2 linked regions of the Homo sapiens genome follow. The protein of the gene in region 1 interacts with the protein of each later gene in a pairwise test. Each region holds a gene or a part of one and is shown in the gene's direction. Other genes may lie near its edges.

Region 1 (7,023 bases):
CCAGGTGGAGGGAGAGGAAGTTTGTTATGGTGCAGGGCTTGCTTGTGTGTGCATGCATGTACTGTCACTGAGCATGCCTCAAGAACTTTCTGTGTGCGCAGGATCCTGGACCTTTTTGCCTAGAGGCCTGGAGTGATGGAGAGAGATGGGGAGGCCATCAGTTACAGTGCAGCACAACACCTGCTCCCTGGTGGGTACTTGGGATCAGAGAGGAGGGGCTGCTTGGTGGAGAGCAACAGAAGGCTTTGAAGGGGAAAGTTGAGCTGAGTCTTGCAGGATGGGCAGGAGTTTCCCAGTCAGAAGGGACTCTGGAATAGGGTGAAGAAGGACATTTCAGGCAGAGGAAGTAGCTTACGCAAAGGCAGGAAGCATGGGAGGATGTGGCATGTTTGGGGAGCTGCAAATAGTTTCATGTGGGTGTGTGTGGGGGTGTGGCGGGTGAGGAGGCTGGCAAGGCGGGCTGGGCCAGAGCCTGGATCTGTCCCTCCCTCTGCCATGCAGACACTCAGTTGGTGCCTGCCCACCTGGGCTCTGGCCCCTGCTGGGGCCTGAGGCTGCAGAAAGGGAGTGCAAGGTGAGTGTGTGGGCAAATTCATGCAGTATTATGTGGGCCACTCCAAAAGAGCCTTGCCTATTGGCTTGTGAATTTAGTTTCATCCTAGAGGTAAATTGGGAGCCATTGAGAGGTTCTGAGCAAGATGACCACATGTGTTCTGGTGTCTTTTGGCTACTGAAGAGGATGTTGAGCTGGGAGTCCCATAAGGCCTGCTGAAGCGTTCCCAGGAAAGACCCTGGAACTCAAACCCAGGCAAGCCAGCTGTAGAAAGGAAGAGAATAAGTGACCTTTCATCCGTTTCTCCATATGACTTATGTAGATGTTTCTTTTGCACAGCACAGGTTGGTAGGGTCAGGGACATGAAGATAGGCTTTGTGGCAGGCAGTGTCTCTTGGCTTGTCAGCAGGAGGCCTGCCAGATAACTTCCTGCCTATCTGGTCATTCTCAAGTCTTGGCGTGTGAGTAGGGCAGTTCCACCATCTAGAGACAAGAGATGGTATTGCAGTGATCTCCTGTGCCTCTGGGTGGGGTGGGAGGAGCTTCAGGCCAAAAGAAGTGACTGTGTGCAAGGTAGACTTATGGAGGGCAAGAAAGTTTACAGCAAAATACTGGGGGAGAAGAGAGTGCCACTGAGCCACGCTGAAAGGCTCTTCAAGAGGGTATTTGAACCGGAAGGACAGGCAGGGAGGAGCTGCATATTCAGAGGTTTGGGTGGTCGGGCATTCTAGGCCATGGACAGTTGTTTGGACTGTGTCATAGCTACTAATAACCACAATTATGGGGCATTTGCTGAATGCTGGACCCAGGCTAAGCTCTCGTGAAGTTTCTTGTTTAATATGGCAGTTCTGTAAGTAGATATTGAGGAACTGGGGCTCCCAGAACCCAAGGGACTTGTCTAGAATCACACGACTCAGATTCGCACCGTGGCCTGCCTCTCTCAAGCTGTGTTTCTGACCACTACACCCGGTTGCCTGCTACTAAAGCTCTGAGCCAGGTTTGGATGCCGTAGGCTTCAAGGGGGCTGCAAGGGGACCAGAGCTGCAGACAGTTGAGGGTGACCGTTAGGGTCTGCTTAGAAGTGAGAGCCTGGAATAGGTGCCCAAGTCCCAGGCAAACTGTGACTAAAAGGAAGGCCTGGGTTGGCCTGAGTAGAGGAGGCCATTCAGGGCTGAGAAACCCCCAGGGGATTTCAGAGAGGGCTTGGAAAGGGCTGTAATGGGAGGGAGAGGTGAGAACAGGTAATAATGACTTCACAGTGCTGGGAAGGAGGGCTGGGGAGAGGAGTAAGTGGAGGTAGAGGGAGAAGCCTGTTTAAACTTAGGGGTCATCCCTGTGAAGGTGAACTGCTGGCAAAAAAAATTTTTTTGCGGTGGGTAGGGAGAAAGGAGCCTTTAGAGTTGAGCAAAACCCAGGATTGAGGGTACAAGGTCTGTGCTGAATCTCTTGGATTCAAGATCATATGTCTCTGAGGGCCCAGTCTGAAGGCTGGTACAGACTTAGGCACCTGGAAAGCTGACGTGGGAAACAGGTAGCAGTAGGTGAGACAAAGTGAGGCCTCTTGATGCCAGGAGGAGAAATGAGTACTGGGCCTTGCAGCATTCATTCAGTCCTAGGAAGTGTTGGAGGCTCACATAGGAGCCTTACATGGCTGAGGTTTCTGGGAGCCAGAGGAGGGAAATTAGGTAGGGAGGCAAGCAGAGTGGGAAGTGCAGGCACTAGCAACCTACAGAGATTTGGAGGGGAACCAGTGGTCTTGGCTTTTAGCCAGGAAGGGACTTAGGAAGTGGGATAGGTCCCTGGATGGGCCATGGGTTGCAGAAGAAGTCTAGAGGCTCTGGTGATGGTAGCTGGCCCTGCCAGAGGGGTGGGGAGGATGATCTCTTCACAGAATTTCACCAGCAACCCAGATGTCAGTGATCCCAATCCTATGTCCTGACAGGTGCTTCCTGCAGCCCCTCCTCAGCCACTTGCCAGGTCCTGACCCTGCAAGCATGTGTGTAAACACACACACACGTGTTCTTGCTTTCCTAGGGCATGACCGTGGAGGGCTCTGAGCTCTTTATTACCACTCCTCAGTTTTGCTCCCTTGCCTGCCATAATTTCTCTGCCTGTAAAGCCTGCTCTTCTCCAGGAGATAGGAGGGAAATTAGCTAATAGGATTTTGCTGGACCCAGGCTGCAGGATCAGCCACTGTACAGTTCTGCTGGTGGCCCTGGGGCGTGGGGGCTGACAGAGGGTCTTATGGTGGGGTGGAAGGGCCCCCTCAGTGGAGCCATGTGGAGGGTGATGGTTCAGAGGTCCTCTCCGCCCTTCCCTCTCCTGGCCTCCAGAAGGGCAGAGACCAAGTCTAACCCCTCACTATGATCCCTGGGTTTCCACAGGGCATGGCATGTTTGTTGAAGGAATAGATGAGAGTCCTGTGGTACGATGCCACAGGCAGGGGCCATAGGTGGGTTCCAGTAAGAAAATAGCTAGCTGTGTCCTGGTATCTGGGGCTGCATGGCTTGTCAGAGCTGCTGGTTCTTTTAGGCCTGATCTGGCACAGTCCCAGGAGGAAGGAGGTCTGAGGGCCTCCTTCCTTTGGCCAACTCTCACACCCATGCTTTGCTTCCCCAGGTGCCCCCTGATAAGTGCCGATGTGCCGTGGGCAGCATCCTGAGTGAAGGTGAGGAATCGCCCTCCCCTGAGCTCATCGACCTCTACCAGAAATTTGGCTTCAAGGTGTTCTCCTTCCCGGCACCCAGCCATGTGGTGACAGCCACCTTCCCCTACACCACCATTCTGTCCATCTGGCTGGCTACCCGCCGTGTCCATCCTGCCTTGGACACCTACATCAAGGTGAGGCACAGGCCTGGGGTGTGTGTGTTGGGGACAGCCAGGCCCCTTGGGTGGAGCTGAGGAGGACTGCCTAGAATGGGAGGAAGAAGTGGTTTTGGGAGAGCAGCACCCTGGGGCCCTCATGGAACAGGTACCTGTGGAGCTAGGAAGATGGGCAGAGGTTGTTGGCATCTCTTTCAGATGCCCAAGATCTTTTGGAAGCCGGAGCATATCCCAAGAGCATGGAGAACTTGTTCATAAATCTGATCTGGTTAGTTTGGCTCTGGCTTTGACCAAAGACATCCATAGTGCTTATCCCACACTCCTGGCTCAGATGAATGGACAGGCCACTTTATTCTCATCCTGCTGGAGGCCTGCAAAGCAAGGACCTGAGGCTCCCAGTGTCTGGGCAGGCCCCAGGTAATCATGTATTGCCCGTGGCCCTGCCTGTGCATGGGCTTATACATCTGCTCCCAGAGGCCAGGGCTGGGACAGCAGTGGCAGGCTCTGTTTCCTTTACTTCCTGACTTGGTTACTGGCAATGCTGGCAGCCCAACCTTCCTGGAGGAAGGAGAGCCAGTCACCTGGTCATCTGACGGGTTTCTGTGTCTACAGAAATTTTTTTAAAACTTGCCCTGTTACACATCCCTCCTCCCCTAAACGTTTTGTAAACTTGGTTGCTAGGGAAATGACCCCAGTTTGGGCTTGGACGTGATTGTTCATTCATTTAACTTGTATTTATAGTCTGTGTGCCAGGTGCTATAATGGGCACAATGTGAATGAAACGTTGGTGCATGAAACAGCCATTCACAGTGAGGTGGTGAAGATAGGTAATAAATATCAGACAAAAATAGGACGTGTGCTAGAGAAGGAGAGGGTGAGAAAAGTCAGGGAACCAACTTGGACAGAATGGTCAGGGACAGCCTCTCAGAGGAGATAACCTCAAGGCAGAGTCCTAGAAGAGCCTTTAGAGAGGAGATAAGAACTTCTAGTCAGAGCTTTGGTCTAAATGCAGCAGGAAGTCACTGCAGTGTTCCAACCAGGAAAATAACACAGTTGGAGCCACGTCTGTACAAGATGAGCTGTCCCATCTCTGGGCAGGGTGGGACTGGACCACAGATCTGGGACCAGGTGGAGATGCTTAGGCCTGGGGCTAAGGAATTAGCCTAGGAGGCTGTCATGAATCCCATTGTGAGTGGTGGCAGCTTGGGCAGGCCCAGCGGCTATAGAGCTGTGGACAAGGATGGAGATTTACAATCACTTTTGGGATAGAACTGATAGACTTTGGGTGGATTCACTGTTGTGGAAGGAGAGGCAGTGAGGGAGTCACAGAGGGCTCTGCTCCCCTCTGGCCTGGGCAGGTGGGCAAGTATGTAGTGATGCTTTCACTGACATGTGGGGAACTGAGGGAGGCCCTGGTTTTGGGGGGAAGGTAGCTATTTGGGCTATGTCAGGGGAGCTGCCTGAGATACATCTAAGTTGGGGGGTGTGGAGTCAGCAATGGTATGTGTGGCCTGGAGTTGAGGAAAGGCTGGGCTGGTGGATATATTTGGGGACATCAGCCTGTTGGCAGTATTTGACCTGGGAGGCTGCCCTGTGCCTCCCTGCCTCTGTGGGACCAGGTAGGCAGTGGACAGCCTGTGGCAGCAAAGGCTGCGCAGAGGGCGTGGCCAGTGTGGCAGGGGTCAGGGAACAGGACGAGAGTCAGTGGGAGTGAGAGCCTGGTACACTTGGAGGATCCTTGCAACTTTGTTCACCAAAGCAGCTTGGGGAAAGGGACACAGCGTTGATGATGGAAATGGGAGTTCAGATGTCCCTGGAGTCTGGTGTTGGGGCTGAGGAATGAATAAATGAGGCCCTGGGTCACCAGCTGTGTCCTTGGCGGTCAAAGACAGGTTTGAAGAATCAGGAGTGAGAAGACCTGGAAAGGGGAGGGCTGTCACGGTGATAAGGCAAGGGCACAGGGAGAATAGAGGGGAGTTTCCTTTGTGAGCTGGAGGGTGGTGGCCAAAAGGGGTGTGGGGCAGGATGTGCTTGCCTGGCTGCGGTTGGACTGGAGGTGGGGGCGGGCTGGCTGGTGGTGTGGGCAGGAAGGAAGATACCAGTGCCCTAGGCCTGCTTAGTGTGCTGCCTCTGGGGAGTCCCGCCCCATTTCATTCAAGGAAGGCCTCTCCAGTCCTGTCGGTGCCATCCTCAACCTCATGGGCCCATCTGGAGGGGCACCCCTGGGAAAGAGACTTCTTGGGTTCCAGACCTCAGAACAGGACATGTGGCATGTGGTGTGGTGGTGAGCAACTCAGCCACCAAAGCCTTTTCCTGGCTTCAGGGGTTTATTTTTAGACACCTTTGTCCAAATTTCCCGGCCCCTGACAGCTTCACAAGTTGCCTGGTTTTGACGTCACCTCTTTGATGAAAGCCCTTCCTCCTTCCTCCCCGCTCCCATGGGAGCCTGTCAGCTGTGCTCCTGGAGTGGGGGTTGAGACAAGGAAGCCAGTGATATGGGGGAGAGCAAGGGGCTTCTCCCAGAGACAGGTGTGAGGCATGCTTGTGTGGGCTTGGCCATCAGCGGGGAGAGTAAGATAGAGGCCGGCTGCCCACAGAAGAGGCATGGCCGAAGGTCCTGGGCTTGTTTTGGCAGCAGGGTGTGGGGGTTGCCTCTGCCCCTGTGTTTAGCCTGACCTTGCGTCTTGGGGAACAAAGCCAGGGGAGAGATGAGGAAGGGGCTAGCTCTGTTTGCTGGTCACAGCCTGCAGTGGACAGGGGTGGCCCTGTGCCTCTCTCAGCCCAGGAGACAGCAAGGAGAGAGTATAAGGCTCCCTTCCATCCCTGCCTTCATCTCCCCTGCCCTGAGGTCAGAGAAAGGAGATTACTAATGAGACTAGTTGCGTCTCACTCTTCTAGCACCGACAGCTTTTAACTGTGTGTGCGTGCGCGTGTGTACACCCTTCTTTTTCTCTCTGGATCTGGGACTGCTGTGAAGGCTCTTCAAATGGAATGACAGCAGCCGTCAGCTTTCTGCTTTGGCAGGGGTGAGAGAGGCCAGGAGCCCTGCTGCCAGGAGTTGCGGGGGGAGGACTTGGCAGGCTCACCAGCCTCTCCAGAGGCTAGGTGAGGGGCAGGGGTGAATGGATCTTAGCTTCGGGTTTGGGAGGTGGAGAGCAGCTGCTGTCCCGGGAGTTGCAGATGTGCCTGAGCCTGGAACAGGATTGGTCTCATGGGACAGAGGGACCTGAAGTTCACGGCGAGAGGCCCAAGGAGAAGCACTTGTCAGGACTCTCGGGATTCTGGAAGGGATGGCTGATCTCAGCTTTCCTGGTTTGCATGGCAGCCTCTGGCTCTCTGGCTAGCCTTCCCCAGCTTGGCAGCCTGGCAAACTGCTATAGATGCTGGAACTCTGCCTTTCTCCATATAAACTGCTAAGGGCCCCCAGGCTGAACACTCATTCCCCTGGAATCCATGCGTACTGTGTGACCATCACTCCATATGGAAGATGCCTCAGCTTTGTCAGGCTGCTCCGCTGGAGTCCAAGGAGGTGGCCTCTAGTACAGGAGGAGACCACTCCCCAAGTCCCAGGAAAGGGGTATCTTCTGGAAGCTGCAGGATGGAACAGAGCTTGCTTGAAATTGCAAACCTGCAGAGGGGAGATGGGG
Region 2 (7,023 bases), on another chromosome or scaffold:
CTCTCTTCAAGGTGAGGACTCAGGGAAGCTCCAAGGTTAAGTGCTAGGTCCTCTGGGGGCTCCATGCCACAGTTTGCTGTCACTGGAGCCTGCCGAGGGATCCAATGGGGACAGAGCAGGCAGTGAGCCTCTTAGTGTTTCTAATGCAGCCCGTGGCCATCTCAGACACCTGTCACTAGAGTCTATGGTCTTCAGACTCACACTGGTCACACGCTCTCAGATGTTTGACCCCCACACATGAGTGCCCTTTGGCTTGTCTATGTGTCCTGTGGGTGCTCGTGTGCTCTGTGTGTCCTCGTGCATGCACAAACATGCACATCCTTTTCTATTCTTGTGCACGCACAAGCCCATGTACTCAGCTGTGATCATATCCACACGAGCAAGTGTACCCATGCCCTTGCACATGTGTATACCAGGTATGTGCACCCAGAGGTGTGCATCCACTCCTGTGCAGACGTGTGTACCCCTGAGGGCTAGTGTGCTCCCCCCACCAGCCTCCTTTCTACCGAATGCACACTCACGCTAAGACCCTCAGGGGCACGCTATCCTCCCCGCTGACTTCCATTTCTTGGCTGATCTTGGCCCCATGCCCCCTCTAGTTAAGAGGGCAGAGGAGCTCTGGAGGCCAGCAATGGAGAGCTGTCAGGTGCACAGCTTTGCAGCCAGTTGACCTGGCCCAGCCCAAGCAGGAGACCACTGGGAGCAGCAGGGAGGAGGCTGCCTGTGACTCCTTGGCTCCCTGGTCCCCTGGTCTCGAACTCTGCCCTCCAAGCAAAGGCCATGGGTTCCTGGAGGCTCCTAGGAACCCCAGCGTTGGTGGGTTGGGATGGCCCCTTCTGCAGCCTGGCCTCCCCGATCTCCCCTTTCACAGGGCCCCCGGCTCGGCCTGGGAGATGGCAGCGGCGTGTTGAACAATCGCCTGGTGGGTTTGAGTGTGGGACAAATGCATGTCACCAAGCTGGCTGAGCCTCTGGAGATCGTCTTCTCTCACCAGCGACCGCCCCCTGTGAGTCCCCTGCTCAGGCCTGGCAGCCACTGCAGGGCAGACAGGCGAGTGGGCACACCTGGGCCCATGGGCCCTGCATGGGACACTACATATCTGTCCCCTACCCTTCCACAGTCGCCCAGGAGGAGCCATTAGGGCCATACACATAATTGGATCCAAGGCCACACACCATAGAGGTGCACATGAGGACCTGGCAAGCCCACCTGCATACACATGGCATTCCACATCCTCCACACCCATGCTCCCCTGACACGCACACATGCATGCAGACAGGCAAACCCTCCTGCCCACAGCCCCACACCACAGTCGCACGCTTCACACGCCGGCCCAGGGCTCATCAAATGGTGCACTTAATTTTTCTGTGTGGCCCATGGGTGTGAACCTTGCTTTCTACCTAATGCACACTCACACTAGGACTCGGGGGAGCACACCGTCCTCCCGCTTCCCCTGCCCTCCCCCAAACTTCCCTTTTCCTCTCTCCTGACTTCCACTCTTCGGTTTCAGAACATGACCCTCACCTGTGTATTCTGGGATGTGACTAAAGGTAGGGCCCGGAGGACCTTCTCTGGGGTAAGACAGGAAGGGAGGGTATGGGCTGCATTGTGGGGCGGGGCTAGCTCCACTGGCTGAGTCCCTCCCCTGCCTTCCTCTCCCCTCCCCTCCCCTCCTCTTTGCTCCCTGCATCCCCTCCCTTCCCCTCCCCTCCCCCCCCTCCTCACCTCCCCTTCCTCCTCCCCTCCCTTCCCTATATTCCCTTCCCCTCTGTTCCCCTCCCCTCCCCTCCCCTCTCCTCTCCTCCCCTCCCTATATTCCCTTCCCCTCTGTTCACCTCCTCTCCCCTCCCTTACCCTCCCCTCCCTATATTCCCTTCCCCTCTGTTCCCCTCCTCTCCCCTCCCTTGCCCTCCCCTCCCTATATTCCCTTTCCCTCTGTTCCCCTGGCCTCCTCTCCAGGGACCACTGGAGACTGGTCTTCTGAGGGCTGCTCCACGGAGGTCAGACCTGAGGGGACCGTGTGCTGCTGTGACCACCTGACCTTTTTCGCCCTGCTCCTGGTAACAGCCCCCTCCACTCTGATCCCAGCCATCCCAGGGGCTTCCAGCTCCTGCCCTGGGGAGGGGGCTGCCTGGTGGTCTTTGGGTATATGGGCCTGGCCTCCAACTGACGTGGTCCCGGTTCTGGGGTCACCCACAGAGACCCACCTTGGACCAGTCCACGGTGCATATCCTCACACGCATCTCCCAGGCGGGCTGTGGGGTCTCCATGATCTTCCTGGCCTTCACCATTATTCTTTATGCCTTTCTGAGGTGAGTGATCCCCACCTCCCCACCATGTCTCCCTCCCGCCCTCAAGGGAGGCAGCAGGGCAGGGTGGGAAGCATTCAGGTTGTGCAGCCTCTGACCGTTGTCCCCTCCACACGTTAGTGTCCTCATCCCAAAATGGGGTTGGGGGTTGAAATGTGTCAGAGCTATTTCAGGAGCAAGTGGCAGAAACTCAACTCAAATTGGCTTAAACATAATAGGGAATGTGTGGTTCACGTAACTGAGAATAGCAAATAGCAAATAGGGTTCATGTAATTGAAAAACCCAAGGTGCATGGACTTCTGGCAGGGTTCGATCCAGGGGGTCAAAAGAGGTCCCCAGAACTTGGTCTCCCTCTACCTCTCACAGCTTTGCTCGCCCCTTGACAGTCACATCGGGCAGCTTTACCACCCTCAGGGGCCCTGGCTGCCTCAGGATTGCATCATAGCTCCTTAGCTGCTTAGGCAGAAATAAAAGAGATCTCCTCTTTCCAAGTATTCTAAGATGAATCCCAGGATTGAGAAGGATTTTATTTTGAGATAAAACAGAAAGATGCAAAAATAGTGCAGAGTCCTGTGGTTCGTTCTCCCAGATTCCCCCTGTGGATACATCATAGACAACTGTAGTTCAATATCAAAACCAGCAGCTGGTGGTACAGTACTGTTGACTAGAATACAGACTTTGCTCAGTTTTCACCATTTTTTATGTACATTCATGTGTGTGTCTGTGTGTGTGTCTGTGTGTGTGTGTGTGTGTGTGTGTGTGCGCGCGTGCGTGCGCGCAGGACATATCATTTGATTGGCCCAGTCCAAAATGAAAATAAAGAAGGCTGGGCGTAGTAGCTCATGCCTGTAATCCCAGCACTTTGGGAGGCCGAGGCAGGTAGATCACCTGAGGTCAGGAGTTCGAGACCAGTCTGGCCAACATGGTGAAAGCCCATCTCTACTAAAAATACAAAACAAAAGTTAGCTGGGCGTGGTGGTGCGCGCCTGTAATCCCAGCTACTCAGGAGGTTGAGGCAGGAGAATCGCTTGAACCAAGGAGGCGGAGGTTGCAGTGAGCCGAGATCACACCATTGCACTCCAGCCTGGACAACAAGTGCAAAACTCCGTCTCAAAAAAAAAAAAAAAAAAAAGAGAGAGAGAGAGAGAAAGAAAATATATGGCCCCTTATTCAAAAAATTTTAAGAATGTCAAGATGGCGACAGTAGAACATTAAGTCCTTCTGCGTATGGGGTCCTACAGAGGTCACATGCTCATGAAACTGGCCCTGTGTGAGCATGTGTGTGCATGTCTGTGTATATCAGCCTATGCAGTTTTATCCCGTGTATACACCAGAGTTGAGTCTTACTGGTCTAACTTGGACCATGTGCCCATGCCTGTCTGGGTCACTGTGGTCAAGAGCTGGAATACACAGATTGGCCGGCCAGGCCATGTGTCTGCTCTTGGGTTTGAGCTAACAAAGAACCCCTGGCCCCTGACTTATGAGAGTGGGGACGGGCGTTCCTTAGGGAAACCTGGGGCTGTGTCCAGAAGAGGTGGGAGTGAGTGCAGGACAGGCAGAAACAGCAGAGAGCACTGCAGCCTGGGCCCAGGCCATGGCTGAGGGACCCACAGGATCTGCCAGCTTGAAGGAGCCTAGGGGAGCTGCCAGTGCTCCAGCTTGTCCTGTCCCCTGCCTCCTGGGGGTCCCTGGGGGTGGCCTAAAGCAGCCCTTGGGTCTCCTGCCCCCGCATCCAGGGCCGTCCCTCCGCCCTCTCCACGTGCCTCTGTGTCAGCATTTGGCCCTAGGCTGCAGCCCCAACTAGGCCCACCCAATCCATCACAGACCAACCCATGAGTGTAAATGGTGCCCCTCACCCCCACCCTCCAAGCCCTGGCCTAGGACATGGTCCCCATCCCCAACAAGCCGAGTGTGACTTGCCAGCTGGCCGCATTGCTGGACCCTGTGAGCGGGGCTTGGAGCGCCAGGAGAAATTACCACCAGCTCCCCAGGGTGGGGCCTGGCATCTCAGGTGAGGTGGACATGATCCCAGATGCTCCTCCAGGAAGCCCCCGGCTCCCCTCCCTCGGCTGAGAGCCCTTTTGGATCTGGTTTGCTAAGAATTCAGAGTGGGGGCTCCAGAGAGAGGGAGGTGAGCCTGGTGAGTCACTGGACAGGGAGTCTGGAGCCCAGGGTTGGAGCCCCTGCCCTGCTCTGTGACCCCATAAGGCTCCCGTCCCTCTCTAAGCCTCACTCTCCTACTGCATTTTCGGCTTCATGCATCCACCCATCTGTCCATCCACTTCACCAATGGATCCCTGGTCCCACCACTGTTAGGCCTGAAGTTCACAGCATGGGAAAGACCCGAGGAGAGAGAGGATGGGGAGTTACACTATGCTGCTGGGAAATGTCCAGTTCAGCTCAGGCTAAGGGGCATTCAGAGATGGCCTCCCCAGAAGGAAACCTCCAAGGGGCATTTGAAAGGCAGAAGAAGAGGAGTCAGGCAAAGAAGGTGGGAGGAGCTGGGGAGCAGGGAAAGGCATTGAGAACAGTGGGAAGAGCTGACCTCTGCGAAATGAGATCAGCCTCACCTTGGTATAGTTTGGGTCATTCCAGGTGTTTTTTTTCTTCTCTTCCCAAGGCTGCCTAATCTCTAGCCAGTGTCTGGCTTTTGACTGATAGGTGTGTTGCTCAGTTACTTTGGGCCCGTGTACGTTTGTGTGTCACCTCCATCCCATAATTTTAAGTACATGCATGATATGCAGCCCATATGCATGAACCTTAAGTAGCTAATTATCATACAGGGTTATGTGAAAGAAACTTTTTCTCTCTAATGTAAATGCCCATCTCTGAAGAGCTGCCCCTTACTGGTTTGGTCCGGATCTTGCCGGCCACGGGGTCCCTTTTTTATGTCACTTTTGTCTTGCCTGCTGAACCTCTGCTTTTCATCTCACTTCTTGCTCACCCGTCCCATTCACCGTGCTTCTATTCTCTGCTTTTACTTATTCTGCCCTTTATCCAACTTTTAATTCCCTTTGCTATTCTCCTGCCTCATTTTCTGGCCTCATTTTCCCTATTATCCTGCCTCACATTGATCAAGGGATGAGGCTGGCAGGATCCGGAACCCACAGGGCCCCGTGGGCCATGAGAGGCTCCTGGACTTGAACCTCAGGACACTCCCACTCTGGCTGCCGGCAGGGATGGAAGCTGGATGAGCAGGCAGGAGCTGGCAGTGGGGGTGGAGAGCCATAGGCTATTGGGGTGGACAGGCTTGGGTGCCTCATGGGAGCTCCCCATGGGAGCTGTGGCCCCTTGGGGCCTCTTATTTCTCACCCCAGGCTTTCCCGGGAGAGGTTCAAGTCAGAAGATGCCCCAAAGATCCACGTGGCCCTGGGTGGCAGCCTGTTCCTCCTGAATCTGGCCTTCTTGGTCAATGTGGGGAGTGGCTCAAAGGGGTCTGATGCTGCCTGCTGGGCCCGGGGGGCTGTCTTCCACTACTTCCTGCTCTGTGCCTTCACCTGGATGGGCCTTGAAGCCTTCCACCTCTACCTGCTCGCTGTCAGGGTCTTCAACACCTACTTCGGGCACTACTTCCTGAAGCTGAGCCTGGTGGGCTGGGGTAGGTGCTGCCTGGATGGACAGAATAAACGGCCGGCCCTGAGGGTGCAGAGGGAAATAGCCTTGGGGAGAGAGAGGAGGGGTTCCCAGAGCTGGAGGGATGGCCATCTGGAGGGGACGTGGAGGAGGAAGTGCCAGTAAGCCCCAGTGGTGTCATGCCATTTCCCCTTGTGCCCAGGCCTGCCCGCCCTGATGGTCATCGGCACTGGGAGTGCCAACAGCTACGGCCTCTACACCATCCGTGATAGGGAGAACCGCACCTCTCTGGAGCTGTGAGTGGCGGCTGTGGGAGCAGGGGTGATGCCAGCTCCCCGGCTACACATATTGGGGCTGGAGAGAGGTGGGGAGAGGAGGGATTTCTAGGAAAATCTAGACCAAATATGTCAAGACCAGAAGAATCCTCAGATCCAGCTAGCTCATGGCACAGAGAAGTAAACTGAAGCCTAGAGAGAGAGAGGGGAAGTGAAATGAGAGAGGGGGCCTGAGAAAGGAGAGGGAGAACTGGACCAGGAGGCAGGATGCCTTACTTGAGCCTGGGCCAACACGAGCCCACATGGCACCTTGAGGCAAAGTAAAGAAGGTCACCCCGTCCGCATGCGGGGTGCGCAGCCTGGAGAGTGGAGGGTGTGTTGGATTTCAGCCCCCACCTGCTGCCCAGCCAGGTGTCCTTGTTCAGGCCACCACCTGCCCAGTGATTCACAGTAGCCCTGGGTCTAGTCTGGGCTCTGCCCTGCCTGCTATGTGTGTGATCTTGGCAGGCCCGATCTCTCCCAGGGCCTCAGTCTCCTCATCTGCACCATGGGGGAACTGATCAACATGCTCTTTGAGGCCCTTTGCCCCTGCAGTGCAGAGGGCAGTGGAGCTGAGTTCAGTTTCTAGACTCACACCTTGGGATCCATGGGGCACCCACCACTGGGCCCATGGCTCTGTGCTAAGAGGAGCTGGTGAGGCCTTGGACCTGTCCCCAGGCCTCAAAAGCAGGGGCCCCAGGAGCTGGAGGGGTCACAAAGGTGCAGGCAGTGGGCCAGGTGGGGACTGCAGCGGACTGGCAGTCACAAGCCCATCTAATTAGCGGTCAGTTACTATCCTTCAGGAGGGCATCCACAGAGCTGCCAGG

What was found.
Region 2: the proteins of TEX264 (region 1) and ADGRG3 interact in binary tests that used the Homo sapiens proteins (3 or more experiments, as listed by UniProt).

What each region holds. Positions count from the first base shown.
Region 1 is NC_000003.12:51,681,241-51,688,263, forward strand, and holds part of TEX264 (testis-expressed protein 264), read left to right. Parts: intron 1-101; exon of another isoform or gene 102-145; coding exon of another isoform or gene 146-190; intron 191-3,172; coding exon 3,173-3,394; intron 3,395-3,574; coding exon of another isoform or gene 3,575-3,634; exon of another isoform or gene 3,635-7,023. UniProt on the Homo sapiens protein: Major reticulophagy (also called ER-phagy) receptor that acts independently of other candidate reticulophagy receptors to remodel subdomains of the endoplasmic reticulum into autophagosomes upon nutrient stress, which then fuse with lysosomes for endoplasmic reticulum turnover.
Region 2 is NC_000016.10:57,678,306-57,685,328, forward strand, and holds part of ADGRG3 (adhesion G protein-coupled receptor G3 isoform 1 precursor), read left to right. Parts: coding exon 1-11; intron 12-871; coding exon 872-1,006; intron 1,007-1,510; coding exon 1,511-1,550; intron 1,551-1,959; coding exon 1,960-2,060; intron 2,061-2,199; coding exon 2,200-2,312; intron 2,313-4,179; coding exon of another isoform or gene 4,180-4,320; intron 4,321-5,626; coding exon 5,627-5,907; intron 5,908-6,084; coding exon 6,085-6,178; intron 6,179-7,023. UniProt on the Homo sapiens protein: Adhesion G-protein coupled receptor (aGPCR) for glucocorticoid hormones such as cortisol, cortisone and 11-deoxycortisol.